Homo sapiens: one gene and its partners. The protein of the gene in region 1 purifies or fractionates together with the protein of each later gene. This does not show direct contact. Each region holds a gene or a part of one and is shown in the gene's direction. Other genes may lie near its edges. The genes, in order: ADRA1D, UTRN, DTNA and CTNNAL1.

Region 1 (7,700 bases):
TTTCTGGTTTCTTGCTGGAGCCCCTGCCTGTCCTCAGGCCTTTGCACTTGCTATTCTCTCCGACTTCGCTGTCCTTCCCAATCTCTCCTGGCCAACTCTATCCTTTAGGTCTTGGCTTAAATGTTCCCTCTTCAGAGGGACCTTCTTGGACCCATGACCCTCAGTGGTGTCCTTGTTTTCTCCCTTGAAGCACAAGGTTCGCTTCCTTCACTAGATCATTGGTTGTAATTACATCTGTGTGCTGCTTGTTTTGTTTCTGGGACTGGCCCAGAAGCTGTGTGAGGGCAGGGCTGTGTCACCTGGGTCATCACTGAGTCCACGGCACTCAGCATGGGCCTGGTATGTGGGGAGCAAAAGAGAGCACTGCAGTGAGGATCACAGGCTCTGGCGCCAATCCCAGCTCTGCCTCCCTCCCGCTAGCTGCGTAACCGTGGGCAAATCCCTTAACCCCTCTCTGCTGGCTTTTTTATCTATAAAATAGAGATGGGGTGATGGTAATCATGCCTATCTATAGGGCCATCGTGGAACTGTAGCTTTTGTAGTGGATACTCAATATAGGGTAAGGAATGAATAAGTAACCCTTGAAAATCATCCAGCCAAAGGTTGTTGCAGGGATGGGGCAAGCAACGGACCCTAAGCAACACACTAGGAGAAGCAGGCAAGTAAGCAGGGAAGAGAAAGTTGGTGCCCGCCCCTTTAGACATCCAAGCCCATCCCCCAGGCCCATCGCCCCAGCCCCTGCTCCAGCCTTGCCCAGCTGTGCTGGGCTCCTGGGTGCCCTCATTCAACCCCTGCCCCTCGGTTCACACTGGGCCCCTGTAGGGAACGCCCAACCTGTGTAGAATGCCAGCTCCCTGTTTTTTTTTCCTTTTAACTTCCTTTAAAATTTTAGCTTAATGCACAAATAAGGAGAAAACAATAAAACAAGCACCCACATGCCTGTAATCACCTATACTGAACAGATGTTAACATTTTGCCATATTTGCCTCAGACCCCTTCCTCTCTCTTTTCAAATAAATAGAACAAGCCATAACTAGATCCCCTCCTCCTGTCCCTTCCTCTTTCTCTCCCTGCCTCGCCAGAGATAAATCTGGAGTATATCACTCTTATACAGATGTTCATACTCTTACTACAAACATCTGTATCCATAATAATATACTGTTTTGTTTGTCTTTGAGATTTATATGAATGGCACCTTGCCATGCGTATCACCGTTCTTCAATTTGCCATTTCACCCAACATTATGTGGCTGAGATTTATCCATGCTGGGCCATTTTCACAGCAGTACATTTGAGAGTATTCCACAGTGCGTTGATCCTGCTGAATGTTAGGTTTTTCTAACTCTTCCTTGTTCCAATCAACACTGCAAAAGGCCACTGCTTTCTTTGAGGTCCACGTCACGTGACTCCCTCTTCCAGGAAGTCATCCCTTAATTTCCATGACCTTTGCTCCTTGCTGGCACGCACAGCTCTTTCTCAATCCTTACATTTCTGCTGCGCCTCACATGTGGTGTAGGGAATTGGGGGGTGGAGGAGGCCCTAAATCCTCCTTCCTAATGGTCTGTGCTGCACCAGGCTTCTCAGGGCACCTTTCCGAGTGCCTCAGAGCAGAGCCCAGGGACACTGGTGGAGCTGAATTGAGTTGAATCTGGCAATGATGAGCAAACAGGACAGAGGCCAAACAAGGAAACAAAATATTCCGATCTGCCCCAGTATGGCTTGGAGGGCAGAAGCAGCAGAGAGGGAGGGCAGAGCCCATTTGGAGCAGGAGGGGTCTGGAGGCTGTGCAGGAAGGAGAGGGGGCCAGGAGGTCCTGACACCCCCAGCATGAGGCCCAGGCCTGGGAGGAGGGAGATACCTTTGAAGGAACAGGGAACACTGAGCAGCAACTTTTGGGGGGAATGTGGACCCCCAGGGGCTGGTATATGTTGGTGTGGAGGTACCAGGTGTGTGGTAGGGGATAGAGAACATTGGAAACTTGGATGCAGGGATCAAAGATGGGGATGGTTGCAGGAGCATGGAGTGCAGTCTCCCAGAAAGAGGAGGAGAGAGAAAAGAGGATCTCAGGACAGAGCTTTGGGGAGCATTGACGTTGAAAGACCCAAAGGAGGCAGAAAAAGAGGCAGCCAGGAGGAGCAGGATGGCTGTTGAGGTGGCACCTGCCTCCTCCCAGGTCCTGGTCACCACACTAGCTGTGACGAGCACCAGAGACGGAGAGATTGAGAAACAATGTATATGCCAGCAAGGAATGGGCCCACATAGGCCCTGGAAGTAAAGGCACCCAGTAGGGCCACAGCAGACCTGGGGTGCCCTCACTCACACTTCCGCACACAAAGCCAGGTGGTAGCAGCAGCCACAGCGGCCTGGAGGGCATCAAGAGTCTCAGGGAAGGGCCCGGAGTTCCAGAGGAACATTGGCACTGTGAGCCATGGGCTGTCACCTGTAAACCTGGAATGCTGTGGTCAGGCCAGAGGGGCAGCACCACAGGAGGGCTGTCCTGAACTGTGGGGGCATCTAAGGACCCAAGTCACTGGCTGGGAGACACTGGGACACAGATGTGGGCACCTAAAATCCAGAGAATCCCAGAGAGTAGCTGGGGATCATCCCCTACACTTCCAGCTGCCCCGCTTTCCCTGTGAGGAACAACTGCAGAGCATGTCCCCAAGGCAGGCAGAGGGTCAACCAGCTCATTAGACCGCAAGTGCCCCGATGCTGCGATTTCAGGGAGCAAGGCTGGGGAGGGCAGCACCAGCTCCTCTGGGACCCCCAGGAAGCTGCTGGTGCCAGAGGTGCGGAGGTGCGTGTAGAACGCCCCTCACCGAGAGAGAGGGGAGGGCACCCTCCTGCCCACGTTCCGTGGTGATGCCCAGTTGAGCTGCCTGCTCCGTGCATAGTGACCCAGGACAGTCCCGTTCCTTGCCTGTGACCGGTGGGATAGCTAGTAGTGCTCCCCTTTCAGTCAGAGATGCTCCACTTTGGAGATAGAACGTAGTGACACCAATCCCTGGGGCCTGTGAAGGAAGTGCTCTTGGCAGCCCCGCCCATGCCAGGTACAATCCCCTACCCTCACCGCAGCAAGCTGGTGCGGGCTGGGTGCCACGGAAAATCACAGGGAATTGTCTAAATCTGCCCTCCTCATCGGGATCCTTCAGCCGGATGCCCCGAGGAGCCCAGACTTGTAGAGTGAGTGTGGGAGGGGCCGCAGTGAGAGCCTGCTGCCTGCGGACTTCCAGAGAGGACCCAGAGAGAGGGGGCGTGGCTGCGGCGGGGCTGCGTCGTTGGGACAGTTGGGTAGGTTGGAAAAGTCCCTGATAAAAGCCTCTGAAGCCTCTGCGCTGAGAAGCTTCGTGCAAGAATCCCCTGACCCTAGAGGTCTAGGCCAATTGTGTAGAATGCAGATCATCCTCCCTGCGGGTGTGAGGGGTACCGGAGGGGCTGGGGAAACCCTGCCCCAGGCAAGCACCCAACTGCAGAGAAGCTTCCTCCTCTCCCGGGAGCCTCCAGAGGCCCGTGTCCCTCCTGCGTGTTTTCATGGCGGCAGCATCTCACTGCGTTTGGGTTTGGGCTGCCTGGTAAGTGTCCCCCAGCCACGCCCAGAGGTGGACTGTCTGCCGAGACCTACATACACACACAAACACACACACACACACAACAGCCCCACCCCTGTCACTCCTAGTGACCACTCACAGCTCCCAGGCTTTCGATCCCAGCTCTCTCTTGTTGGGCAGATCACCGAGCATCACTGACCTCCACCTTCCAAATGCCATCCACTCAAAGCAGCCCGGAGACTCAGAGCCCAGGGCCCCCCTCAAATGCACCTCAAGGCATACAAGCTGGGCAGAGGCTCTGATATCAGAAGTCCCAGGACAGCCCAGCCAATGTCCCACTCCAGCCATCTGTGAGCCACACCTGAGCCTCTCTCCTATCTTGTGAGTCTGTGCTCTGTGATAGTGCCTGTGTCGCTGACCACCCCCAGACTTAGATGTCCCATGTGCTTCTGAAACACTCTGCATGTACTTTTATCACGATGCACTGTAACTGTCAATATTCAGATATGCATCATGAAGTGTGAGGGCAAAGGGAACTACACACACGTAGGCACAGGAGTAGCAGTATTGCTGGGTTGCTCTGTGGTTTGGGAGACGTAAAACGTGTAGCCTATGAGAAGAGGGGTCAAGAGATGAGGCCAGATGCCATCTGCAGGAGAATGGATAAATAAACCATGTATCCATAGACTGGACCACGGTACAAGGAAAAATAGCAAACTACTGATGCACACATGGATGAATTTCATGGATGTTATACTGCGCAAAATAAGCCAGGTCTGAAACTCAAGGTGTACACACCTTTTGATTCTGTGTAGATGAAGTTCAAAAACAGGGGAAACTTATCAATGGTGATAAAATCCAGGATAGCGGTTACCCATCTGTGTGTGTGCAGTGAGTGTACTAACTGGAAGAGAATGCTAGAAAACTTTCTGAAGGGCTGGGACAGTTCCATACCTTGACCTGGGTAGTGATGACATTGGTGCATGCATATGCAGAGCCATCAGGCTGTGCTGTGTGCTTCAGATACACACGCTTTCTAAATTTGACTGTCTACATGTTATGCCTTTGTTACAGTGAGAGAGAAGGCAGGAGGAGGCAGGGGGGAGGCTGTGAGCCCTGCTTAGTAATTGGTGTCCAGGCTGGAAGGCATACTTTGGTGGCCCCGTGCGGAGAGTGGATTATGCATATGTCTGAGAGTCGGCCAGGTGCTAAAGGACTCATCTCCACAGGCTGCCTGAGGTTGTGCAGGGGTCTGTGGATGAAGGGGAGAGGCAAGGGATGCTTTGTGCTAGGTCTTCAGTAATGGCATCATTGTCTCCCGGCCCAAAAGCCTGAAGAAAGGGCTGGCATTACATCTCCTACCTGTGCTTTGTGGCACCTGGAACATAATAGGTGCTCAGTAAATGTGTGCAGAAGAAGGAAACGGTAGAACCCATGTTCTATTCCCATCCTGCCACACCAAGGGTCTGGGTGGCAAAGCACAGCCCTCCATTTATTTATTATTTTAATTTTCTTTTATTGTGGCAAGAGCATATAGCATGAGCTCTACCCTCTTAACACACTTTTAAGTGTAAATATCATATCATTAACTACATATCATTAACTATGGATACATATCATGTGATACTGTTGCACATCAGACCCCTAGAACTCATCTATCTTGCCAAACTGAAACTTTATGCCCATTGATTAGCAATTCCCAATTTCCTAGCGCCCTTTCTCCCTGGAAACCACCATCCCACTCTTTGAGTCTACGCATTTGAGTATTTTAGAGACCCCCATGTAAGTGGAATCATGCAGTATTTCTCCTTCTGTGACTGGCTTATTTCGCTTAGCATAACAGCCCTCTATTTAAAGTCAACTCTCTTTACTTGTTGTGGGTTGGGGGTGAGTCCCCATTTTTGTGGCCTAAAAAAAAAATCTTTAACAGGACAGTTAATATTTATTGAGTAATTACTATGAATAAGCAATGAGCTAGGGTTGGGTTTTTTTCATGTTTTTAACATGGAAAGTTTCAAACACATACATTGATAGAGAGAACCCTGTTAGTATAATGAACCCCTGTGTACCTGTGACCCAGCTTCACCCCAAAGCTAACCTAGATTCTTTCCATCCTCACCCACTGTCCCATCACTGTAGATTCTTTTGGATTTTTGTTTGTTTGTTTTTTGAGATGGAGTCTCTCTGTCTCCCAGTCTGGAGTGCAGTGGCGCAATCTCAGCTTACCGCAACCTCCACCTCCCGGGTTCAAGTGATTCTCGTGCCTCAACCTCCCAAGAAGCTGGGATTATAGGTGTGCACCACCATGCCCAGCTAATTTTTGTATTTTTAGTAGAGACGGGGTTTCACCATGTTGGTCAGGCTGATATCAAACTCCTGACCTCAGGTGATCCACCCACCTCGGCCTCCCAAAGTGCTGGGATTACAGGCATGAACCACTGCACCCGGCCACTGTAGATTATTTTGAAGAACATCCAGATACAGTATCCCTTCATCTGTAAATCCTTCAATATATAGTTCTAGAAGATAATAACTGTAAAAAAAAAAAAAAAAAGCCCACAATCCATTATAACACATAAAATCATTTAATATCATCAAATATCTACTTAGTGTTGAAATGTTGCTGGCTGCCTCGTAAATTTTTGGTTGGTTTGTTTGAAGCAGAATCCACAGAAGGAGCACACGTTGCATATGGTCGATTTGCCTATTAGGTTTCTTTACTCGGTAAGCCTCCACTGCTTTTTTTTCTTTCCATTTATTTAGTGAAGACACCAGATTGTCCCCAGGTGTATCCTGTAGTTTGGAGTTTGCATCTCCACAGTGCCATTTAATGTGTCCCTCTGTTCCCTGTACTTCCTGGGTGCAGATTTGGCCTGGAAAGAATTCTTCTTTTCTGTGGTGTCAAGATTGACCAGAATTCATGTGCTGTCAGCCTGCTCTGTCCATTACAAAGTGACCCATCGGCCTTTCACCTGCTGGTTTTGGCAGCCATTGACCATGGCCTGGACCCATTATATCACTGGGGCTTGAAGTGGGGATATTCTAATCCTATCATACCTCCTTCATTTATTCACTAGCATTCTAAAATGATTTCACCACTAGCTGTTTGGTTAAATAGAATCTGTACAGCAAAGGCAGGGAAGATGTTCAATATTCCTCTTTATTTATCAGAGGAAGAGTCAGTTCTCTAGCATTCTTTCCAGACGTGACCACTGAGGCTGTTTGAGTACCATGGTAATGTCATTATTTTTAGACATCCTTGCTGTTCCAACACATCACAGACATCATTGTTTTGGGCTTGGCCAGTGGGTACTCCTTCCAGTTGGCTTCTGAGATCTTTGGCAGAACCTGGAGCATCTTGAGCTCTTCTTTGCTTTCTGATCTGATAAGATGCTTCAGGCTCAGCTTGCATTTTTTCTGCCCTAGACCTGGAATTAGCCATTTCCCTAAAGAGCCCTAGTCTGTTTCAATGGAAGATGACTGAGCTGTTCATTGATACTGAGTTGGTCACTGATTCAATGGACAGATCTAGGAAGTACATTTTATTTTCAGTAGAAGAAAAACACAACACTGATGGGGACTTCTGTCCTTGGACATATATTCCTCCTTCCCCTCCCCTGAAGATCTTGTCCTCTGCCCAGCTCCTGCTGATATGTTTGTCCCAAACATCTGAGGAACTGTTGATCACCCTGCTCCATTCATTAAAGATCTGGGCATCAGAATCACACTGTTTTTTCCTCACTCCCACCCCTACCCTGGTCATCAGTGTGACTCCACTGTACTGAGGCTGACCCATGATGACACTCTGGCCTTGAGACTACAATGACCTTCCCCTCCTCCCCTCCTCCAAGGCCTATGCCCTGGTCCATGTGCCCATTTTACTCTCCCTCCCCCAGAATCCTCAGTGAAGCTCTTCCTCCTGAGTCCATCTGCTCCTGTCCTCCCTGCTTGGTTCCCATTACACCTGCTCATCAACCCCAGCCTTGACCAAGCCTTCACCTCCCTGCCCTCACCTTGTCTCCCAGTCGATTACACATCCCTTCCTTAGTCAGCTAGTCCCAGAGGATGATCTGTTGCTTCATCCTCTCTTGCCGTCTTTAATTCCCTCACTTCCTCCTATTTCTGTGAGCCCCAGATCCTGAATTAGACCATT
Region 2 (7,700 bases), on another chromosome or scaffold:
ATCAGGTGACTATTAGTTTATTAGCTGACTATAGGCTTTGGTCCATAAAATTCTACCATAAATGGGTCCTAAATAGACACATTCTGGACATTGAGTTCACATGAAAGTGCTACTTGCAAAAGGCCAAAGGCAACACTGGAGAATAGTTGACATGGGGCTTTTGTCACCTAATGTATACTTGCCCAATTTCATAGGAAACCTTTTATAGTTTGTATTATCATGTTTTTTCAAGCATTGGTGGAATTAGAAATGCATTCATTAGAGGACCCTAATTCTTTTTTGTTTTAAAGATGCATCTATTAAAAAATTTTTTTTAGGACAACAGTGGGAAGCTGAGAAATGGGGGAGCTGAACTGGATAAAGTCTGTGTGTTCCAGTTCAGTTAGGGAGGCATGTCAAATTCTTCAGTAAAACCCATATTTGAATAATCACGTCACTGTTTTTCTGAAACCAGTTCCATCAAAAAGCCCACCATAGCCAATTCTGATAGGTCTTTCCTGCCTAATGCATTTTACATAAGTTTTGAGGTATCTCATAGAGCATAGAAACAATTTTAGAAAATAAAATAGCGTGAGGCTGGGCGCAGTGGCTCACACCTGTAATCCCAGAACTTTGGGAGGCCGAGGTGGGTGGGTCACGAGGTCAGGAGATCAACACCATCCTGGGCAACATGGTGAAACCTCGTCTCTACTAAAAATACAAAAATTAGCTGGGCATGGTGGCACATGCCTGTAATCTCAGTTACTCAGGAGGCTGAGGCAGGAGAATCGCTTGAACCAGGGAGTCGGAGGTTGCAGTGAGCTGAGATTGCACCACTACACTCCAGCCTGGTGACAGAGCAAGACTCTGTCTCAAAATAATAATAATAATAATAATAATAATAATAATAATAATAATAAATAAAATAGTGTGTTTCATTTGACTTTCATAGCTGATATACTTGGTTTTCTTCGTTTAGCTTATCTTGTTCCTAGAGCTCTTCATCTAGTAAAATACAGTAGAGTAGTTGGGCATCTGGATAATGTGGCTTTATGAATCAATGCCCATTGTGGTTGCCTAAGCATATAAGCCCAGGAAGTTTGGTGAAGGTCCTATGTTTTGTAAACGTTTCCCTTGATTCCAATAGTGATAGACTGAGAAGTGTAAAGTCAAGTGAGACTGAGTGGCAGGAATGTGTTCTATGTTCTCCCTTTTAGACAATTAATAAAGTGATCTTCTGTTGATTTTGCCTTTTGACTAGTCACCTTCTAAGAACTCTGTGTTTTATAGAAATAGAAAATTTTAAACTCTGGATCTCTGGGAGTAAAACAACTATTTTTAAAGACAATGTGCAGTTTTCCTTTTATAAGATGTAAATTGTGTTTGAATCATTACCGGGCATCACTGTAACCAGCAATATCTCAGGATTAGAGAAAGGGAGATTCAGATGTTTAAAATTGGTTTAAAGAGGCAAAATGAATGGCTTGTAAGACATTGTCAGTGAAAAAATAACTGAAGTTGTTTTAACCGCCCTTGTTCTTGAAGTGAGCACCTCTTTCCAGTTTTCTAGATGAGTAGTGGTAATTTTCCATCTCAGAAATTTTATTTACCTACTTAATTTTCTTCCTTGATTAGTATGAATTGTCCAACATAAAGATGATGTGGCTGGTGTTACTATTCCTTTGCCTGCCTAGAATAGAAATGATGGGGCAGGGGCATGACCCATATCTCCATTGTTCATATTGTTAGGAAAATGGTGATTTGTTTTGTATACTCTCCCCATTAACAGGGGTAATGCAGCATGGCTTGTGGTGTGAATGCTTTGCTTATGTCTCATATTCTCTTACCTGAGAGATGGTGGTGAACAGTGAACTTCTGCAATTGACATAGGTGACACATTCAAATGACAGCATGATATGCCCTCATTTATGATTTTCAGTAGACACAGTGTATTATAAAAATTTTCAAAGTTGCATTGTCTGTGGATCATACATGACTTTTTGTTTTTATGCCTTTGTTTTTTAGTTCAAGCTCTCATTATCCTGGATTTTGATCATATATGTTTATAAAGCAGGATTGTTTTATTGCTTTCCTACTCAATAAAAATGTGAAGCCATCCTTTTGGTATGCATGTTTTCCTCCGAATAGAAAGATTCCTTTGAAGATTTCCCATACTTTTTCATAGTCATTTTAGAGGATTTGAAGGTATTTTAGATTAAGGGAAGGACTATGATAAAACCTATTATTATATATGACTTTATTATTTTTAGGAACATTCTCTACTTTTCAAAAATATCGGACAAATAAAATGATAAGATTTCAGTAATAAAAATGGTGGCATTGTTTTCCCTGATGTGTTTCTAAAGTAGATCATCTTATTGCTGCCTCAGTCTTTTGGTATTTGCTTATTTATGTGCAAGGTCTCCAGTGGGCTTGCTGATGCTTCTAGAGCCTGGCTGCTGGCTTAATATTCCTGCACTCACCAGGTTGCTTCCCAGCATAAGGCATCCTCGCCATTCATTTTTTAATTTATATGACACTGTGCTTTGGTCACCAAGACCTGAGCTGCCTCCTAGTTTTTCTAGCCAGCTTTCTTTTTTTCTTAGGACAAAGGGTCTTCTTTCTGAAGTCGGGCCTAGACAGATCAAGGTAGTTGATCTTATTTCACTGGTTCAGGTGATAAACTAGCAGAGTAGAAGCATGGCATGGATGGAAACATATATTATCTAGAAAAGGCAGTGGCTGAAGTTCTACTGATGTGCCTGAATCGTTATTTTAAAATGTCTTTCTTCTTTGTTCAAGGAATTGAAATAAACATCATTATTTTTAAGTGCATCATTATAAATTTTTGTTGTTGTATTAAAAGGGACTTAAGAAAGTGATCATTATGTGTGACATTGCCTCACTATTCTGAGTGTTAGAATGTTCAGAATAAATTCAAGACACATTTTGTAATATATAGACTGTTTGCTTGTTTTTCATGTCTGCATAGAAGGCCTTCCTACTGAAGAAATAAAAAATGTTCTGGAGAAGGTTTCATCAGAATGGAAGAATGTATCTCAACATTTGGAAGATCTAGAAAGAAAGATTCAGCTACAGGAAGATATAAATGCTTATTTCAAGCAGCTTGATGAGCTTGAAAAGGTCATCAAGACAAAGGAGGAGTGGGTAAAACACACTTCCATTTCTGAATCTTCCCGGCAGTCCTTGCCAAGCTTGAAGGATTCCTGTCAGGTAAGGAGCCAACGGTCTGGAAAGTGGAGGAATTCTATGTGCAGTTCCAGAGTTAAGGAGGGCTTCTCGTATCATGAACTTTAAGTTAATGCTGCCCTGATTAACTTCCTGTGAGGATGTTCATCTTCAGTGAGTTGTGTGACCGTATTTTCTCTTCCTTAGCGGGAATTGACAAATCTTCTTGGCCTTCACCCCAAAATTGAAATGGCTCGTGCAAGCTGCTCGGCCCTGATGTCTCAGCCTTCTGCCCCAGATTTTGTCCAGCGGGGCTTCGATAGCTTTCTGGGCCGCTACCAAGCTGTACAAGAGGCTGTAGAGGATCGTCAACAACATCTAGAGAATGGTAAACCCAACAATTTTAAAATCTCCTGTCTCAGTTTGCCTTAATGTAAACATGACTCCCAACATTTAGAACTTGAGTACACTTGCTTGCTTTGCACCAACCTTCTCCATTTTCCTTTGTGCCTGTATTGTTCAAAGTCTTAAAGTCTTCTGTATTCAGATTCTTTTCCAGATTCACACCTTTTTGTAAACATACAAGCAAGTTTCACATTCTCTAAAATTGTGTCAGTAGGATATAATAATAATTTTTTTTTTTGTAGCTACAGGATCTCACTCTGTCACCCAGGCTGGAGAGCAGTGGTGCAATCATAGCTGCAGTCTTGACCTCCTGGGTTTCAGTGGTCCTTCTGCCTCAGCCTACTGAGTAGCTGGGACTACAGGCATGCACCACCATGCCTGGCTGGTTTTTTATTTTTAGTAGAGCCAGGGTCTAGCTATGTTGCCCACGCTGGTCTAGAACTCCTGGGCTCAAGTGATCTTCCCACCTCAGCCTCCCAAAATAACAGGTGTAAGCCATTATAACAGGTGATATAACAGCCTCCCAAAATAACAGGTGTTAGGCAAAATAACAGATGTTAGCCTCCCAAAATACCAGGGATAACAGGTGTCAGCCATTGTACCTGACCTGGATATAATGATTTTTAAAGATTTTTTTTTTTTTTTTTTTTGAGAAACAGGTGCAATTTCTTCCTTTGGTTGAGGAGGCCACTTAATATCATTGCTAGGAGGATCAAAATGAATGATCCCTTACTTCTGTTTCCTCAAAATAGTTAAAGTTTTGGCAGTCTCATACTGTCTTTTAAAAGAAATCATATTCCACTGTCAGATTCAGAAAAATTTTAGAGTTCTTACTTTTGGAATACACTTGGTTTTGGAAGGTTCACTGTTAAAGATTTTGAAAGCTCATCCCTCCTACGTTACACTATTTACTTCCTAGCTGCCATTTGAGTTAGGAACTGTGTTGCATTGTGCATTATTTTGTGAAATGCATTGAGCATTGTGTGAAATGCTCCACATGTAACCCAGCCTAACTTCAGCAATTGTAGATTGTGTGATGACTGGAAGTGTCTGTATGTGTGCATGCTAGGCAAATGTGTCGTATTGCCTTTCTTCTGAAAGTGCATCTGGACAGCATGTCTTTGTTCCTTGAATTCAGTTATGTGAAATATGTCTTTGAGGGTACCTCTTTCTCCACTTATTGGTACAAGCTGTGCTTTCACTTTTGACAAGGATCAGTAGGCAGTTTAACTTTTGCTGCTAGTTGGTTTCACCTCTTTGTGCTTCAAGAGAACTCACTTCCTTTCCACGCAAGTGTTACTTCTGTGATATTTTTACATTAGTGACTGAGGTAGACACTGTTCCAGCTGGCTGTTCAGTCATTATTTCTCAGGGTACCTGGGCAGCATGGTGGCAGTATTTCCATATAATCTCCTCCACTCTGGACCTGGGTTTGTCTACACGGTGGAGCTTACAGCAAGACTGGTTGAAGGGATCTTTGTTTTCTTTTATTCTTTGTGTAGCTGTTAAGGAAGAGGAGATTATATGGAACAAAAGGGACATTGTTGTTCCATCTTCAGAGAGACATTTCATCATGAAGAAATGAAGAAAAATTATAGTGGGTTAGTTAATATTTCAAACGTCAACATCCGCAGGAATGAAGTCACTGTCTGACTCTCAGAAATGCCAATGGAATGATCTATGTTGTTAATTAACAGAGACCCTTTTACATTTTAATCATGGGGTCTCCTTTGCCATGTATTGGAATTCATTTAGGATAATGGTCTATGTAATAATATTGGTTCCTAATATGATTTTTTCAAACTAAATATTTTTAAATAAACAGAACTGAAGGGCCAACCTGGACATGCATATCTGGAAACATTGAAAACACTGAAAGATGTGCTAAATGATTCAGAAAATAAGGCCCAGGTGTCTCTGAATGTCCTTAATGATCTTGCCAAGGTGGAGAAGGCCCTGCAAGAAAAAAAGGTAACATATATCTTCCATGTTAGAACTCTAGCGCTTCTTCTAATATCTCCTCTTACATATTTTGAAATGTTTTTTCAGAGATTAAAAAAAAAGTTGGTCAGTTTTGTTCATCATTGGTGCAAAAATGTGTTTATGATTTGAGGGTTAGTTTGACCTCACATAAAAGAAAGTACAGTTATTAAAAATTTTTTCATAGAAGAAAAGCATATTTTCTCCTTCTGCTGTGATTAGCTTAAAATTCTCAACCTGTTCATAAAATCTGCTAAAATATCTTTATGAAATGAGGACTATCAGTTGACGTGTTGATGTATACTTTTTTCTGCATCGAATAGGAATGTTTCCGAGGTCATTTAGTTGAGTAGCCTTATGGCTCTGTGCTATTAGATGAAAAGGAGAGCAGCCATTGAGCACTGCACACTTGGCCCACACTGGGTTTGCTGTTCCCTTGGTTTTTAGGGTTGAGAATACACTGTATTGCCCACACACAACTCATGAAGAAAAAGCTTTAATTTTTATGATTATGCCTATTTTTTTCATGAGTTTTTCATGTTTTGTTTTGTTTTGTTTTTTGATTTCCAACTTTTATTTTAAGTTCAGGGGTACTTGTGCAGGATGTGCAGGTTTGTTAAATGGGTAAACGTGTGTCATGGTAGTTTGCTGCACTACGTATTAAGCCCAGCATCCATTAGCTCTTCTTCCTGATGCTTTCCCTCCCACCATGCCCCACCCTCCAACAGACCCCAGTGTGTGTTTTTCCCCACCATGTGTCCGTATGTTCTCATTATTCAGCTCCCACTTATAAGTGAGAATATGCGGTATTTTTTTTTGTTGTTTCTGAATTAGTTTGCCGAGGATAATGGCTTCCAGCTCCATCCATATACCTGCAAAGGACATGATCTTGTTCCTTTTTATGGCTGCATAGTATTCCATGGTTGATATGTACCACATTTTCTTTAAGTAGTCTATCATTGATGGGCATTTGGGTTGATTCCTTGTCCTTGCTATTGTGAATTGTGCTGCAATGAACATAGTGTGCATATATCTTTATAACAGAATGATTTGTATTCCTTTGGGTATATACCCAGTGAGATTGCTGGGTCAAATGGCATTTCTGGTTTTAGGTCTTTGAGGAATCACCACACTGTCTTCCACAGTGGTTGAACTAATTCACACTCCCACCCACTGTTCTTTTTAGATAAAAATGCTTTCTAATGCATTTTAAAGTGACTTTTGACTTTATATAGCCCATTTTACTATATCTGTGCAGACACATTTTTGTGCATATTTTTAATCTTTTAAAACTTTTTCCAGACCCTTGATGAAATCCTTGAGAATCAGAAACCTGCATTACATAAACTTGCAGAAGAAACAAAGGCTCTGGAGAAAAATGTTCATCCTGATGTAGAAAAATTATATAAGCAAGAATTTGATGATGTGCAAGGAAAGTGGAACAAGCTAAAGGTCTTGGTTTCCAAAGATCTACATTTGCTTGAGGAAATTGCTCTCACACTCAGAGCTTTTGAGGTAAATCCAGAGGCCACTGGGAGTTTAAGTTTATTACGGGGTAAATAGTAATTATCTTATAAGATTCACGTATTTATTATTTAAATATTTTACATTCTTTCTAGATCCCCATTTATTATGTATTTAAGTTGGGACTTATCAAAGATGTACTTTTAATGTGCTAGAGAGCACATTTATTTCCTTTTGCCTGGAAGCAAAGTCAAAAGTAGAGTAAACTGGACCTTGAAGATAAGAGAAAATTGCTTAAAAATGGTCAAAATAATGTTTCAGGCATGGAGGGCCTGTGTGAAATACAGACTGTTGATTAGATTATAGTAGTAACTTGGTTGGGGTGGTAGAAATAGCCCAGGTAGTAGTAAATTGCTGAATACATGAAACTACTTTTTGCAGGTTTTTGACATTTGAAGTCAAAAGTCAGAGATAGGCCATTGACAGTGTCAGAGTGGGAAGGCAAATCGTTCCAGGGACATGAAAATTCAGAAACAGGATCCTTCACTACACCTGAAAATGTTGACAGATGCAGCAGTGATAAAGTTTAAGAGGAAAGGATAAATGTGAGGATGTATAAGGAGAGAGTCAATGTCAATAGAAGTCAGTGTCAGATTTTAACATTCTGCCTGTGAGAAAGATGG
Region 3 (7,700 bases), on another chromosome or scaffold:
AAGAAAATATTTCTAAAATAGATGAAGATCAAGCCAATGAATGATGACTCAATATCATCTAGATACTCCATTTTTAGGAGTTATTTTTTAACCTCCGATTTTATTAAGGTGAATTTTATTATTGACCACTATGTAATTTTTGACATGAAAAGAATTGGATTTTTTTTTTAGAAATCTAAGACTTTTCAAATGAAAAAGAAAGTAATGGTACCATGATCATGATGATAATGATAACGACAATAATGATTAATTTGGAGAATAAGATAGATTAGAAAGCTCTTGCCTCTTTGTGTAGTAAAAGGCCAATGCTCTTAGAAGGAAAGTGGAAATTACTAATGGGTAGTATGATTCTCAGAAATTAACCCTCAAATTTAATTAATTATGTTAATAGCATTTATAAGTCACTAGGAATAGAGGTGCTTGGTATGTTATTATCAGACTTTATTATAAAATATCTTGGTTTTGTTCAATAAGCGATAGAGGCTGTCATCAAAAATGATTAAACTTAGATATGCAGCGTTATTTCTGAGGGCTCTGTTCTGTTCCATTGATCTATATCTCTGTTTTGGTACCAGTACCATGCTGTTTTGGTTACTGTAGCCTTGTAGTATAGTTTGAAGTCAGGTAGTGTGATGCCTCCAGCTTTGTTCTTTTGGCTTAGGATTGACTTGGCGATGCGGGCTCTTTTTTGGTTCCATATGAACTTTAAAGTAGTTTTTTCCAATTCTGTGAAGAAAGGCATTGGTAGCTTGATGGGGATGGCATTGAATCTGTAAATTACCTTGGGCAGTATGGCCATTTCCACGATATTGATTCTTCCTACCCATGAGCATGGAATGTTTGTATCCTCTTTTATTTCCTTGAGCAGTGGTTTGTAGTTCTCCTTGAAGAGGTCCTTCACATCCCTTGTAAGTTGGATTCCTAGGTATTTTATTCTCTTTGAAGCAATTGTGAATGGGAGTTCACTCATGATTTGGCTCTCTGTCTGTTGTTGGTGTATAAGAATGCTGATCTTTGACAAACCTGAGAAAAACAAGCAATGGGGAAAGGATTCCCTATTTAATAAATGGTGCTGGGAAAACTGGCTAGCCATATGTAGAAAGCTGAAACTGGATCCCTTCCTTACACCTTATACAAAAATCAATTCAAGATGGATTAAAGACTTAAACGTTAGACCTAACACCATAAAAACCCTAGAAGAAAACCTAGGCATTGCCATTCAGGACATAGGCATGGGCAAGGACTTCATGTCTAAAACACCAAAAGCAATGGCAACAAAAGACAAAATTGACAAATGGGATCTAATTAAACTAAAGAGCTTCTCCACAGCAAAAGAAACTACCATCAGAGTGAACAGGCAACCTACAAAATGGGAGAAAATTTTCGCAACCTACTCATCTGACAAAGGGCTAATATCCAGAATCTACAATGAACTCAAACAAATTTACAAGAAAAAAAACAAACAACCCCATCAAAAAGTGGGCAAAGGACATGAACAGACACTTCTCAAAAGAAGACATTTATGCAGCCAAAAAACACATGAAAAAATGCTCACCATCACTGGCCATCAGAGAAATGCAAATCAAAACCACAATGAGATACCATCTCACACCAGTTAGAATGGCAATCATTAAAAAGTCAGGAAACAACAGGTGCTGGAGAGGATGTGGAGAAATAGGAACACTTTTACACTGTTGGTGGGACTGTAAACTAGTTCAACCATTGTGGAAGTCAGTGTGGCGATTCCTCAGGGATCTAGAACTAGAAATACCATTTGACCCAGCCACCCATAAATCATGCTGCTATAAAGACACATGCACACGTATGTTTATTGTGGCATTATTCACGATAGCAAAGACTTGGAACCAAGCCAAACGTCCAACAATGATAGACTGGATTAAGAAAATGTGGCACATACACACCATGGAATACTATGCAGCCATAAAAAATAATGAGTTCATGTCCTTTGTAGGGACATGGATGAAACTGGAAATCATCACTCTCAGTAAACTATCGCAAGAACAAAAAACCAAACACCGCATATTCTCACTCATAGGTGGGAATTGAACAATGAGATCACATGGACACAGGAAGGGGAATATCACACTCTGGGGACTGTTGTGGGATGGGGGGAGGGGGGAGGGATAGCATTGGGAGATATACCTAATGCTAGATGACGAGTTAGTGGGTGCAGCACACCAGCATGGCACATGTATACATATGTAACTAACCTGCACAATGTGCACATGTACCCTAAAACTTAAAGTATAATAATAAAAAATAGAAAAAAAAATGATTAAACTTATCAAGAATTGTACAATGTGTGGGTCAGTATCTGACAGGAAAAATGCAAACTCATTTCTAGGAAAGAACAATTAGTTATATTTTTAGTATATAAAGGGGCAATTAACTGGTCTTCACTTCATGGTATTATTAGCTGGATATTTTAGAGTGGTATTACTATAATAATTCCCCACTCTCAAACACACATGTTATGAAATGTTCACTAGACACCATTTCAATATTTTAATTGTTTTTAATTTTTTAATTATTTATTTTAAATAAACAATATTTTATATCTGAAACCTGTTAATTTTGATTTGTTTGGTGGAACATTTACTCAGAAAAATTACTTACCTCTACACATCCCTGACATGAAAGAAAATACTGGATGGATTGGCAATTCCAGTATAAAATATGGATCTATGAAAGTAGTGAAAGAAAATATAGAACTTATGATAGAAAAGGATGACCTCAAAGACAAAAATCATAAAGGAATGGTAATATGAAAACTTACTCCTTCTAGAATATGTTATATACAAAATTAAAAAGATAAATGGCAAATTAGAAACAACATTTGCAACATATATGAAAGAGAAAAAGTGAATATCCATGTTATGTAATGAGGTCTCATAAATCTGTAAGAAAAAGCACTTCCCTTTTAATTTTAAAAATATCTACAAATTAAACACATGTCATTTTAATAATTAGCAACTATTTTTTAAAGGGGAAAGCAAAAGGAGGAAGGGGGAGATAATGTCTGGTTTAGGAAAAGTCTGGAAAATGGGAACACATATACACTGCTATCATATAGCAGTGTACACTGGGTGCAGGTGGGGAGTTGATCAAGCTGGCAATGTGTAGCAAAGTCTTTAAAAATTGCATATCCTTGGGCCCTACAGTTCTACTACTAGGAATATGTCCTAACAAAATAAATAGTCTAACGTATTTACATAGTTTTTCGTTGTTTCAGACAATAGCAGTCTGAAAAAGAAAATCCAAGAAATATAGAAAACACATGAGCTCGTATTTCCTCTCTAGAAGCTATAAAGCTGTAAGAAGTCGGCCGGGCACCGTGGCTCACACCTGTTATCCCAACACTTTGGGAGGCCGAGGCGGGTGGATCGCCTGAGATCAGGAGTTGGAGACCAGCCTGGCCAACGTAGTGAAACCCCATCTGTCCTAAAAATACAAAAAATTAGCTGGGCGTGGTGGCAGGCGCCTGTAATCCCAGCTACTTGTGAGGCTGAGGCAAGAGAATCGCTTGAACCCAGGAGGCGGAGGTTGCAGTGAGCCGAGATCACACCATTGTACTCCGGCCTGGGCAACAAGAGTGAAACTCCATCTCAATTAAAAGAAAGAAAGAAAAAAAGCTGCAAGAAGTCATAGACATGGCTATATGCTGGTCTAACTGTTGACTTCCCAACTCTTTAGATGGAACATGTATAGGCAACATGGTGTAGAAAAAGAGTCTTGGCTTAAGAATTGGAATGCCTGAATCATGCTACTAACTAGCTGAGTTAATATAAATATGCAAATTTATGAAATTATTAAAATAATAATGTTAAAGAGTAGAAAAGTCTGTGAATCCCTTTACCCATGTATATGTGTTTGTCTTCACCGCTGATTTGCAAATAAGAAGTCTCATATCAAGTGGGAAGGGTAGATTTTTATAATTTCACTGAAATTCAATACCAAATGGTAAAATCTGGAATGCCTTGACTGTGAGAGAAAATAACAAAATATTTTAAATAGGGTATACATTCCAATTATTAGTTTTTGAAATTTATTCTAAAGAAATTTCTGCTCATATAAGGATGGGCAGAGGATAACTGGGCTTGAATAACTGGGCCACACCTACATTTAGGTGTGGTGGAGAGGCAGAGCTCCAGAGCAATCTGTTCAAAATTCTGTGATGCTGGAAATGCTCTATATCTTCTTAGTCCAATATAGTAACTACTAGCCACATGTGGCTATTAAACACTTGAAAGGTAGCTAGTGCGACTGATGAAACAGATTTCAAATCTTATTTAATGCTAAGTAATTGAAATAGCCACGTGTGTCTAGTGCTATCTTAATAGACAGTGACACTCTAGAATTAAGCACAACAAATAGGGTCTTTTATTTAATATCGGAGGTTAATTTCAAGCACCTCTGCTAAATTCGGATGATATAGATAGGACAAGAAGGTGAGTATTCTTTGTGCAATTTCCCTTTTATCTACAGAAATACAGATCAATGAAATCCTTTGATTCTAGTGACTGCAAGTCCAAGATTTTCCAGAGAAGTGTTGGTCTCAAGTAGTCTGTAGTTTTGTTTGCTTAAGAATTTTAATGCTCATTCATTTTCTCATTTATTTTTTTTAAAAAACCTTATATTGAATATATTTGTGTTGGACACTGACATTGAAAAGATAGTAGTAGTGCAGAGTTCCTTGATTCAGGAAATCCTTGGAGTATCCTAAGGAGTAAATGGTGCAGAGCAGATATTACAGAGGAGGGGAGAGAAAATGCTGTGTGGAGAAGGAAGCACTGGGATAAACCTTAAAGAAATGGCCAGTGTTCAATAGGAAGCTGGGGAAAGGAGGATCTTGAGAAACAGAACAGTATGGGAAAACCAGGGAGAGATGAGAATCAGAAATGTCTGGAAATGTAATAATGGCAGCAGCACAGAAAATAGACTAGTGTGTAGACAGAAATGAGTCCAGAAGTTAATGTTACAATCCAGAACAAGTATGAGGGAGGTTATGAGCTAAGGGGATGAAAGTAGAATTTAAAAAGAGTAGATTTGAGAGGTGTTTTGTCTGTTGCTTCTCTTTACAATAAGTCAGGTAGAGAACAACTGATTTATCTTTTAAGCCCCCTTGAAAATTGTCGATTACTGCATACAATGCTGGAGCAGGATTTTTGTGGCCAAGGAAACTGAGCGTATCTTACAATATGCAAGTTTTTCAAACAGGACCAACTTACATAAATCATCCTCTTGGAAGTAGGCGCAACTACATCATGTATGTAGTTGAAATGTATGACACATGACAATTTTGTTTGGGGATGTAATGTAACTGAGGTGGAAACTTAATATTTATGAGACTTCCTCTTTCGTTAAAATCTTAACATTCTTTGATTTTGACAAATAGTGTTTTTATTTCTTCCAAAAATACAAGAATTTTAAAAGTATATAATTAGGCATCGTTTAGAAAGGTCAAAAAAGCAATCGTCTGTTGAATTTATGATTTGGGTACATTATTCTTCTCCAGTCTTTACCCCATTTTGATGGACTTTTTTCTCTTGGCAGTATATCCAGGTTCATTTATAGGTGGGAAGACAGTAGAAGCTGTTATTCCAGCATCAAAGCCCCCACTGTTTTCTAATAAGACGTTAGGTTTTATTTCTTCCAAAGCCTTATGATCACTGCAGTCAAAAAAAGAAGGGTGGAAAATGCAGAAAAATGGTGGAGGAGGTGGAGTATGGTCTTGGTCATAAAGAAATGAAAGGAGAAAGGTATTACTGAAGAGTATGGGCATTAGTCTGACTGTAAGGAGGACTTTGGCAGTAACTACAAGCCAGAGTGAGTGAGGAAAGAATAGCAGCCATTTGGGCAATGTGCTGACCATGTGTGGCTTGATACTAGGAAACCTGAACATACAGCAGGACAGAGAGGAGCACATCATGTGAGAGTTCCATGAGTTCTCGGATTTAAGAAAATAGAAGACTTTCTAAGTGCCAGATACTGTTCTAAGTACTTTTTGTTTAACCTATTTAAGGCAATTAACCCTTTTTTTTTGGAGAACAGTCATAGAACATGGAAATCACTGAAGAAATGTAAGTAGTGGTGGGATGCAGTGGCTCACGTCTGTAATCCCAGTACTTTGGGAGGCTAAGGTGGGTGGATCACCTGAGGTCAGGAGTTCAAGACCAGTCTGGCACCAACATGGCGAAACCCCGTCTCTACTAAAAATACAAAAACAAAACAAAAACTAGCCAGGCATGGTGGTGTGGGTCTACTGTAGTCCCAGCTACTCAGGAGGCTGAGGCAGGAGAATCACTTGAACCAGGGAGGTGAAGGTTGCAGTGACCCCAGATCGCACCACTGCATTCTAGCCTGGGTGACAGAGTGAGACTTCATCTCAAAAAATAAAAAAATAAAAAAATAAGTAGTTATTATCTCTCCATCAATCCTCACAACAACCCTATGAGCAGGGTACTTTTACCATCTTTATTTTACAGATGAAGAAATTAAGGCCCGAGAGGTTAAGTAATCCCCCAAACAGCATACAGTTAATCAGAGAGAGCTCTATTTAATCAGCTCAACTACTACGCCATCCTGCCTACTCTTAATCTATGTTAATTTTATAATATGTACAGAGATGATACTTGTAACGTGCTCACAAAGTGCCTGACATATAGTAAACCTGCAAAAATGTTAGCAATTATCATTATGTAATAAGATTTAGAAGACTTTCCGGTATTTATGTCATTCTACACCGACACTGCTCAGAAATAGTAACAAGATTTTTAGGGCAGCTCTGGATTTTTCTTATGTAAAGTGTAAAGAAAGCTTTGTTTAGGAGCATGCCCTTATAAATTGGAGAAACTCTTCTTCTACCCAAATACTGTCAATCAGTTTGACTGGCACAGTTGAAGTTTTTACCTCAAAGAATGGGCCTCATTGAAATGTTCTATATACTCATCTACATGGCTCTGACCTTCTGACAGAGAATGACTGCTGCTAATGGTACTAATAAGAGCAAATGGAATTCCCTTCCAAGCTTGGTATTTGAATAATATGTCAATTTGTTCATTGCCGTCTTACTAGGAATTAAATGCGCTAATATTTTTATAACCTAAGGGAGCTAGTGCGAGGTTGGCAGCCAGAAAAGGGAATCAGGCCAGAGGCTGGCCAAGGCATAGTCATGAGGGGGTGGAAGGGTCACAAAGTCAAAGTCAAGCAGGTGGACCCAGGCAGAACCCAACCAGACTCTAGAACAAAGTTAGGTTCAAAGTTTGGTTCTTATCTCCTTTCCCTATAATGTGGGCTGGTAGGGGTGGGTTGATTGTCATCCTCTGTACAAAAAGAATTGTATGGAAAATTAGCTGGCTCTGAAATCTAACTGAAATAAGAAAGTCAATAAAAGCATAATTAAAGATACTTAAACATTGTAGATACAGGCAATGAAAGAACAATGCCTCTGTTGTACTGGATTTCCAGCAGGGAATGATGCTGTTTGGGTTAAGACACAGGTAAGGCAGAGGAGCTTTGAGAATACCATGGCTCAGGAAGGAAGAAATGTGAGAAAGCTAGAGAGGTACAGGAGACTACAGAGGAGAAGGGAAAGGCAAAATCTGGATTCTGAGTAATCAGAAGTTGTCGTCTGCTTTGGTGGCTCCTATAGTTCCCTTTGTCTTCATCAGTGACCTGAG
Region 4 (7,700 bases), on another chromosome or scaffold:
ACAGTCAAATTTAAAATAAACATTTCCTTTAAAGCCAGAAACCAGAGTGGGGTGCCTGCTATGCTTCTACTCAGCACTGCACTGGAAATTCTAGCCAGTGTAATATGACAAGGAGAAGAAATAAAAGGAATAAATATAGGAAAGGAAAAACCAAAAGTCTCAGTGTGATATAATAACCTATGCAGAAAACTCAAAACAGTCTACAAGTAAATTATAAAAATTAGGAGTGTTGGCAAGTTCACTGAGTGTAGGATACTAAAATCAATTGCATTTTTCTACATTGATAACAAACAAGGCACAGGCGCACTGGCTGGTGCCTGTAATCCCAGCTACTCTAGTCTCAGCTATTCAGGAGGCTAAAAAATGGGAGGATGGCTTGAGCCCAGCAGCTGAGGGCTGCAGTTAGCTGTGATCACGCCACTGTGCTCCAGCCTGGCCAACAAGGACCCTGTCTTTAAAAAATAATAAAAAAAAATAGAAAAAGTAATTATTAAAAAAATCCAGTTATATTAACAGTAACAGCAAAATATGAGCTTCCTAAGAATATGTTGCTTTTGCTATGTATATAAAGAGAAAGAGCTCTATCTCTATGTATACACAGCAAAAGTGGTCAAACTTCATGGAGAAAATTTAAAAATTTTATCAAAAGCCAACATGGATCTAAATAAATGGGAGAAAAGTACTGTGTTCAAGCCTAGGTTGACATATTATAGACATATCAGTTATCCCTATTGGTCAATTTAATGCAATTTCCATGAAAATTTCAGCAAGATTTTTCAGTAGAACTTGATAAAAGTAATTCTGAAGTTTATATGAAAGCACAAAGGGCCAAGATTAGGCAGAAGAGAAACAAGGTGGATGGACTTGCTCTGCCAGATTTCAAGACTCATTATAAAACTATAGTAATTAAGACAATGTGGGTATCAGAACAGGGTTGAAAAACATAGACCTGTGATACAGAATAGAAAACCCTAGAACAGATCCACACATATATGGAAACTCGGTAAATGACAATTGGCATTGCTGGTCAGTGGGGAAAGGAAGAACTTAAAAAAAATTAAGCTGGGACAATTGGATATCTAAATAGAAATTATGAAATTGGATCTCTGTCTCATACCAGTAAAAAGTCAACTTCAGATGGATTAAAGACAATATGAAAGTAAAAGCTCACAACACTTTTAGAAAAAAAAAAATAGGGCAGTATCTTCATTACCTTATGCTGGGAAAGGATTTGTTAGTATACCACAAGTATAAACCTTAAGAAAAAAATGGATAAATTCGACTTCTTTAAAATGAAGAACCTAGGCCAGGCGCAGTGGCTCACACCTGTAGTCCCAGCTCTTTGGGAGGCTGAGGTAGGTAGATCATTTGAGTCCAGGATTTTGAGACCAGCCTGGGCAACATGGTGAAACCCCGTCTCTACAAAAAATACAAAAAATTAGTCGGGTGTGATGGCATGCACCTGTGGTCCCAGGTACTCTAGAGGCTGAGGTGGGAGGATTGCTTGAGCTGGGGAGGTTAAGCCTGCTGTGAGCTGTGATCACAACACTTCACTCAGCCTGGGTGACAGAGTGACAGAATGAGACCCTGTCTCAAAAAAAAAAAAAAAAAAAAAAAAAAAAAGAACCTCTGTTCATCAAAAGGAAAACGTAAGTCATTAAGTGGGAGAATATGATTCCAACACAAATAACCAACAAATGATTTGTAGTACCTAGAATAAATAAAATACTCCAATGAATAAAAAATAAAAAGATTAGCCATTAAAAATTGGTCAAAAAATAATTTCACAGAAGAGGAAACAGCTAAAAGATATAGGAAAAGATATTCAACTTCATTAGAACTCAATGAACTACAAGCTAAAAAATCCACAGTGAGAATAAGTGTTGGTGAGGAACGTGGAGATGGTAGCAATATCCGTGTTACAACCATTTTGAAAATGGTTTGTTGTAATCTATTATAATTGAAGGTGGGCATTACCTGTGGCCCAGCAATTCCACTCCTAAGTCAGTACCCCTAGAGAAACTCCTACACACCTATTAGAAAAGTGGATTGGGGCTGGGCGTGGTGGCTCACGCCTGTAATCCCAGCACTTTGGGAGGCTGAGGTGGGTGGATCACCTGAGGTCGGGAGTTTGAGACCTGCCTGACCAACCCCGTCTCTACTAAAAATACAAAAGTTAGCTGGCGTGGTGGTGCATGCCTGTAATTCCAGCTACTTGGGAGGCTGGGGCAGAAGAATTGCTTGAACCTGGGAGTCAGAGGTTGCAGTGAGCCGAGATTGTGCCACTGCACTCCAGCCTGGTAACAGAGTGAGACTCTGTCTCAAAAAAAAAAAAAAAAAAAAAAAAGAAAGATGGATTGGAATGTGGATAGCATTTTTACTTCTGATGGCCCAAAACTGGAAACTTCCCAAATGTCTTTTAACAGTAGTATGTTTACATAAATTGTGCTATGTTCATATAATGATATACTCTGTCACTGAAATGAATAAACCACAGCTATAATTATCAATGGGGATGAATCTCAAAAACATAATGTTGAGTGAAAAAAAATAAAGGTTCAATACCAGATAAAACTAAACCAGATATCATTTAGGGTATACTGTATGTACAATAGTTATAATAAAGGAGTGGTGAACACAAAATTGGGACAATGGTTTCTTTTGGGACAAGAGAGTGATATGGACAAGGAGTAGCCAGATAGTACATGGGCTGTCAGAGATACTGACATTGTTCTCTTAAGCTTGGTGGTGGCTGCACAGGTCTTTCTTTCATTTCTTTAAACTCCACACATATATGTTATATATACTCATATGTTTTATATTTTATAATTCAGACATTTTCTTGAAAAGCCCTGGGCTAAGAACCAAGCATATTTTATGTAGAGTACCTCCCCACCTCCTTTAATAATCACTTTATTCTTCCTGTCAGAACTCCCACTCCAAGTCTTATAATGCTTTTATCCAAGGAAGGGAAGAAGGATATCTGCCACAGAACTCCACCCTGGTGTGGAATATTATTCTACTGCCCACTAGTCTTTTCCTGTCTATGATAGATTTCCTTTATTCACTATTTGTACAGACCCCTTAAATTTCTAAGGTAGCCTACCTCATTTTCCCATTACTCTCTGCATTGTTCTGGAAGCTTTTCAGGATTCTTGTTGCAGTTATGTTGTCGATGAAGAGAGTAGATAAGGCGCCCTCTCTGCTCTTTGCTGATTTGTGTATGTGAATACATGCGTGTTTTTTTTTCTTTTTTTTCTTTTTTGTGATGGAGTCTCGCTCTGTCACCCAGGCTGGAGTGCAATGGCGGGATCTCGGCTCACTGCAACCTCCACCTCCTGGGTTCAAGCAATTCCCCCACCTCTGCCTCCCAAGTAGTTGGGATTACAGGCACCCAGGCACCTTACATCAAGCCCGGCTAATTTTTTGTTTGTTTGTTTTTTTGTAGAGATGGAGTTTCACCATGTTGGCCAGGCTGGTCTTGAACTCCTGACCTCAGGTGATCCACCAGCCTTGGCCTCCCAAAGTGCTGGGATTACAGGTGTGATCTGCCACGCCTGGCTGATGGGTACAATTATTATTTCCATTTTCACAGGTGAGAACACAGAGTCACAGAAAGGTCAGATAGCTTGCCACATGGTCACATGGCAGAGCCAGAATTCAAAACCAGGCAGAATGATGTCCATGCCCTTAACTGCTGGGATATTCTTTGGTGTTTTGCACTTCTTGACACCCTTTGTTAGAAGCTATCAAGTAAACCCTAATTCTTATTCTTTTATTCCACAGCAGAGTTCTTTAGTACACCAGATCTTCTTTCTTCCCCAAGGGATGCCTTTTCTGCCCTCTTCTCTGGTTCATTTAGGTGTTCTCTAGACTCTGGTGTCAGGGCAACTCCAAGTTATGACTCTCAATTTAATATCATTCCTATTTTTGCAGAACTATAGTTAAGATTGTATTTGGCATATTATGATTTACAAAGCACTCTTGCTAGTTGTCTTTTCCTTGATCCTTAACATAATCCTGGAAGGTAAGAGAGACGGTGTAGTGATTAAGAGTGTAGGTAGCTCCCCTGGCTTTGTGACCTCGGGCAAATACTTAACTTCTTCAAATTTCAGATTTTGTATCTGTAAAATTAGGGTAATAATAGTATGTACCTATTAGATGCTGGAGAAGCAAGCATTAAAAGAATTGATACATGTAAAACACATAGGCTAGTGCCTGGTACTGTTGTGCTTAACAAATGTTAGCTAGTCTTATTTTTTATATGATAAGGAAAGTGAAGTTTAATCTCAATTTTGTAAAACTGTGTATTTAAGTATCTATATGTACAAAACAAGACTGGAAAGAATTATGCCAGAATTCTCAGAGGTTAGTAGGATTATGGGTAATTTTTATTTCTTGAGGCTCTCCTATATTTTCCATTTCTGTTTATAAACAATAAACATGTATAACTTTTGAACCTACCTTTTAAAACATTTGAAACTAATTTTAGAATATAAGTAGACCTTAAATAAAGAATGTTACATATTGACTTAGTTCCTCTAAATAAAATTTTAAAGGCATACTATATTTGGATTGAACATTTCCTAGACTGCTTTCCAGTGAAAGGAAGGCAGCCACACCTAATTATGCACTGGGGAAGGCGCTTCTAGTGAAAGCAAAATGTGTCTTTTGGAACGGAACAATAGTTCATATTTTGGCTTAATTGCAGGATCTTTTCTTTGTAATTGAAATTTTAAAACTTTATGTAAATGAAATATTTAATAAACAGAATCACCTTAATCTGTTCGGATTGCTATAAAAAATAGACTGGGTGCCTTAAACAACAGAAATTTATGCCTCACAGTTATGTAGGCTGGGTAGTCTAGGATCAGGGTTCAGGCAGATTCAGTATCCAGTGAGGGTCCACATTCTGGTTCATGGACAGCTGTCTTCTCACTGTTCTCTCAGGGTGGAAATGAGTGAGAGAGCTTTCTGAGGCCTCTTTTAAAAGGCATTAATCCCATTCATGAGAGCTCCTCCCCCATGAACTAATCGTCTCCCAAAGGCCCCACCTCCTAATACCATCACATTGGGGGTTAGGATTTTAACATAAGGATTTGTGGAGGGGGAGTGGGAGGGGGAATGGGACACAAACATTCAATCTATAGCAAGAACTTAAACTCCTTTCCACTGCAGTCTCTTCCAAGATGGTAGCTTGGAATAGTCAATGCTGAGCAAGTTCTCTTTTTTTTTTCATGTGATAGTAACAATTCCCTAGAGTCTGTCAGGTGTGGAAAAGGATTAAGCTGGTGCCAGTAGGATTTGTTCTGTGCTTCCCAGCAGCATGGCCCACAGTCATTCTCCAAATTAAAATTATCGTGACTCTTTCACATGATTATGTAATGAGCTTTTAGGTAACATTTCAATTAAAAAAAATAGGAAAGATTGTAAACCTCCAGTAAAAGAAGGACTATTAGGTGGGATTTGGTGTCAGTTTAAACCTGGGTTCAAATTCTAAACTAGGCTACTTATTAGTTGTATGAGCCAAGTATGCAATTTTACTCAGCCTCAGTTTTTTAATCTTTAATAATACCTGAGGATTAAGTAAGATAGCTAATTATAGTATGTCTTTGAACACTTACAATAAACTGTTTATGGTACTATGTTAAACATAATGCTTTCATTATTTTATTAACTCTTCTTATTTATTTATTTATTTATTTATTTTTTTCAAGACAGAGTCTCGCTCTGTCACCCGGGCTGGAGTGCAATGCCATGATTTCAGCTCACTGCAACCTCTGCCTCCCAGGTTCAAGCAATTCTCCTGCCTCAGCCTCCTGAGTAGCTGGGATTATAGGTGCACACCACCATGCCCGGCTAATTTTTGTACTTCTAGTAGAGATGGGATTTCACCATGTTGGCCAAGCTGGTCTCAAATTCCTGACCTCGTGATCCGCCCACCTTGGCCTCCCAAAGTGCTGGGATTACAAGTGTGAGCCACTGCGCCCAGCCAACTCTTCTTACTAACATTATAAGTCAGAGAAGGCAATATGGCTAAGTGGCTAAGAGGCTAGTCTCTGCAGTCAGAATATCTGGATTTAAATCCTAACTCTCCCATACTTCTTGATGTCCAACTTCCTCATTTGTAAAATAGGGATGATTATTACCCCCATTTTCCAATTTGGGGAAATGAGGATGATTAATATTAACCTATTTCACTGGATTGTTGTACGACATTATAGGGTAATGTTTAGGAGTACGGTCTCTAGAATTGAAATGTCTGACTCTGAATCCTAACTCTAGCACTTATTAGCTGTGTGACCTTAAATAAGCACCTTTGAGCATCAGTTTCCTTAGGCTCATGATGTGAGCCTTCCCACTTGGCCGGTGAAGTGTCTTCATGACATGGGAATTGTCTTTCCCTAGGGTGAACCGAGAGAAAGAAAGATGAAAACCACAGTGACTTTATGACTTGCCCTCAAAAGTAGCATACTGTCACTACTGTTTTATTCTATTAGTTAGAAATAAGTAGCTAAGTTCAGCCTGTACTCAAGGAGAGGGGAATGAGACTTCACCTATTTAAGGGAGGAATAGCAAATAATTTGTGGACATATTTTAGAACTACCTACAGTCTAACCTCTGCACACAAATTGTTTACCTTATTCTCACCTGCAAGTAACCTCTTCCCATCCATATCCTCTCCAAAGTCACAACATCAGCTGGAAATCCATGATGTTGGCATCTATTACAAATATGATCCAGGAGAGACTTCTTGTATGTAGTAGTTCCTTAAGTGTAACGTCTTTCAGCTTTAGGATGACTACTATAGACTCTTCTGTTCAAAAAATGAGAAAATAGAAAGTATAGAATAACTGCTATACAGTCCTGTTCAAAAATGGAAAAAAAATAGGAGCCACTGGTTTATGGTATTCTGAACTCCTCCTGGGCAAATGTTGCCAGTTCCTTGATTAAGACTCAAGTCCTGGGAATAGTTCATGGCTCTTGATTCTGCCCTCTAAGTCATTATTTTACATGAATTGTAGCTCATGTTTGCAGCTGCGTAGATTTCTCAGCCTGTTCCCTGCTTATGGAAGTTTGGAGCAGGGGCTGGTATGAAAGCTTCTTTTCATACAAAGATGTATTCCCTTTTAGTCCAAGCTGATAGTGTTTCTGCCAATACGATTATCTTAAAAATTTTGTTGGTCTCCTGTGAGTCATATTGAATTCATTCTACTAGACAAAAGCCCACACCCACAAGTCTCTTTGATATATGCTCTTCTTTAACTTGGGCTTCTCCTGGGACTGCTGAGGAATAATATCTTTAGGCTTCTTGGGAGATCTGTTGTTTACCTGAATGGTTGTCTGAAGCAACACCTTGGACCTTTCTGAGATCTTAAGATTTTATAGTCGTACCCTTAGCTTCATCTTTAGATGCTTTCTTGACACAGCCCTAGATTTTATTTTTGCCTGGAAGCCATTGTTAATTTTAGTATGATGTGCCATCTGGAGAAGATTTTTTTTTTTGAGATGGAGTTTTGCTCTTGTTGCCCAGGCTGGAGTGCAATGGCACGATCTTGGCTTACTGCAATCTCTACCTCCCAGATTCAAGCGATTCTCTTGCCTCAGCCTCTCGAGAAGCTGGGATTACAGCCATGCACCACCATACCTGGCTAACTTTTTTCTTTTTTTTTTTTTTAGTGGAGATGGGGTTTCTCCAT

The links.
Region 2: the proteins of ADRA1D (region 1) and UTRN purify together in Homo sapiens (tandem affinity purification; 4 studies listed by BioGRID and IntAct, with this or other methods). This does not show direct contact.
Region 3: the proteins of ADRA1D (region 1) and DTNA purify together in Homo sapiens (tandem affinity purification; 4 studies listed by BioGRID and IntAct, with this or other methods). This does not show direct contact.
Region 4: the proteins of ADRA1D (region 1) and CTNNAL1 purify together in Homo sapiens (tandem affinity purification; 3 studies listed by IntAct, with this or other methods). This does not show direct contact.

The regions. Positions count from the first base shown.
Region 1 is NC_000020.11:4,238,809-4,246,508, reverse strand, and holds part of ADRA1D (alpha-1D adrenergic receptor), read left to right. Parts: intron 1-7,700. UniProt on the Homo sapiens protein: This alpha-adrenergic receptor mediates its effect through the influx of extracellular calcium.
Region 2 is NC_000006.12:144,455,799-144,463,498, forward strand, and holds part of UTRN (utrophin), read left to right. Parts: intron 1-2,971; coding exon 2,972-3,213; intron 3,214-3,375; coding exon 3,376-3,556; intron 3,557-5,398; coding exon 5,399-5,544; intron 5,545-6,855; coding exon 6,856-7,068; intron 7,069-7,700.
Region 3 is NC_000018.10:34,712,936-34,720,635, forward strand, and holds part of DTNA (dystrobrevin alpha), read left to right. Parts: intron 1-7,700. UniProt on the Homo sapiens protein: May be involved in the formation and stability of synapses as well as being involved in the clustering of nicotinic acetylcholine receptors.
Region 4 is NC_000009.12:109,002,800-109,010,499, reverse strand, and holds part of CTNNAL1 (alpha-catulin), read left to right. Parts: intron 1-3,693; exon of another isoform or gene 3,694-4,020; intron 4,021-6,317; exon of another isoform or gene 6,318-6,404; intron 6,405-6,651; exon of another isoform or gene 6,652-6,817; intron 6,818-7,700. UniProt on the Homo sapiens protein: May modulate the Rho pathway signaling by providing a scaffold for the Lbc Rho guanine nucleotide exchange factor (ARHGEF1).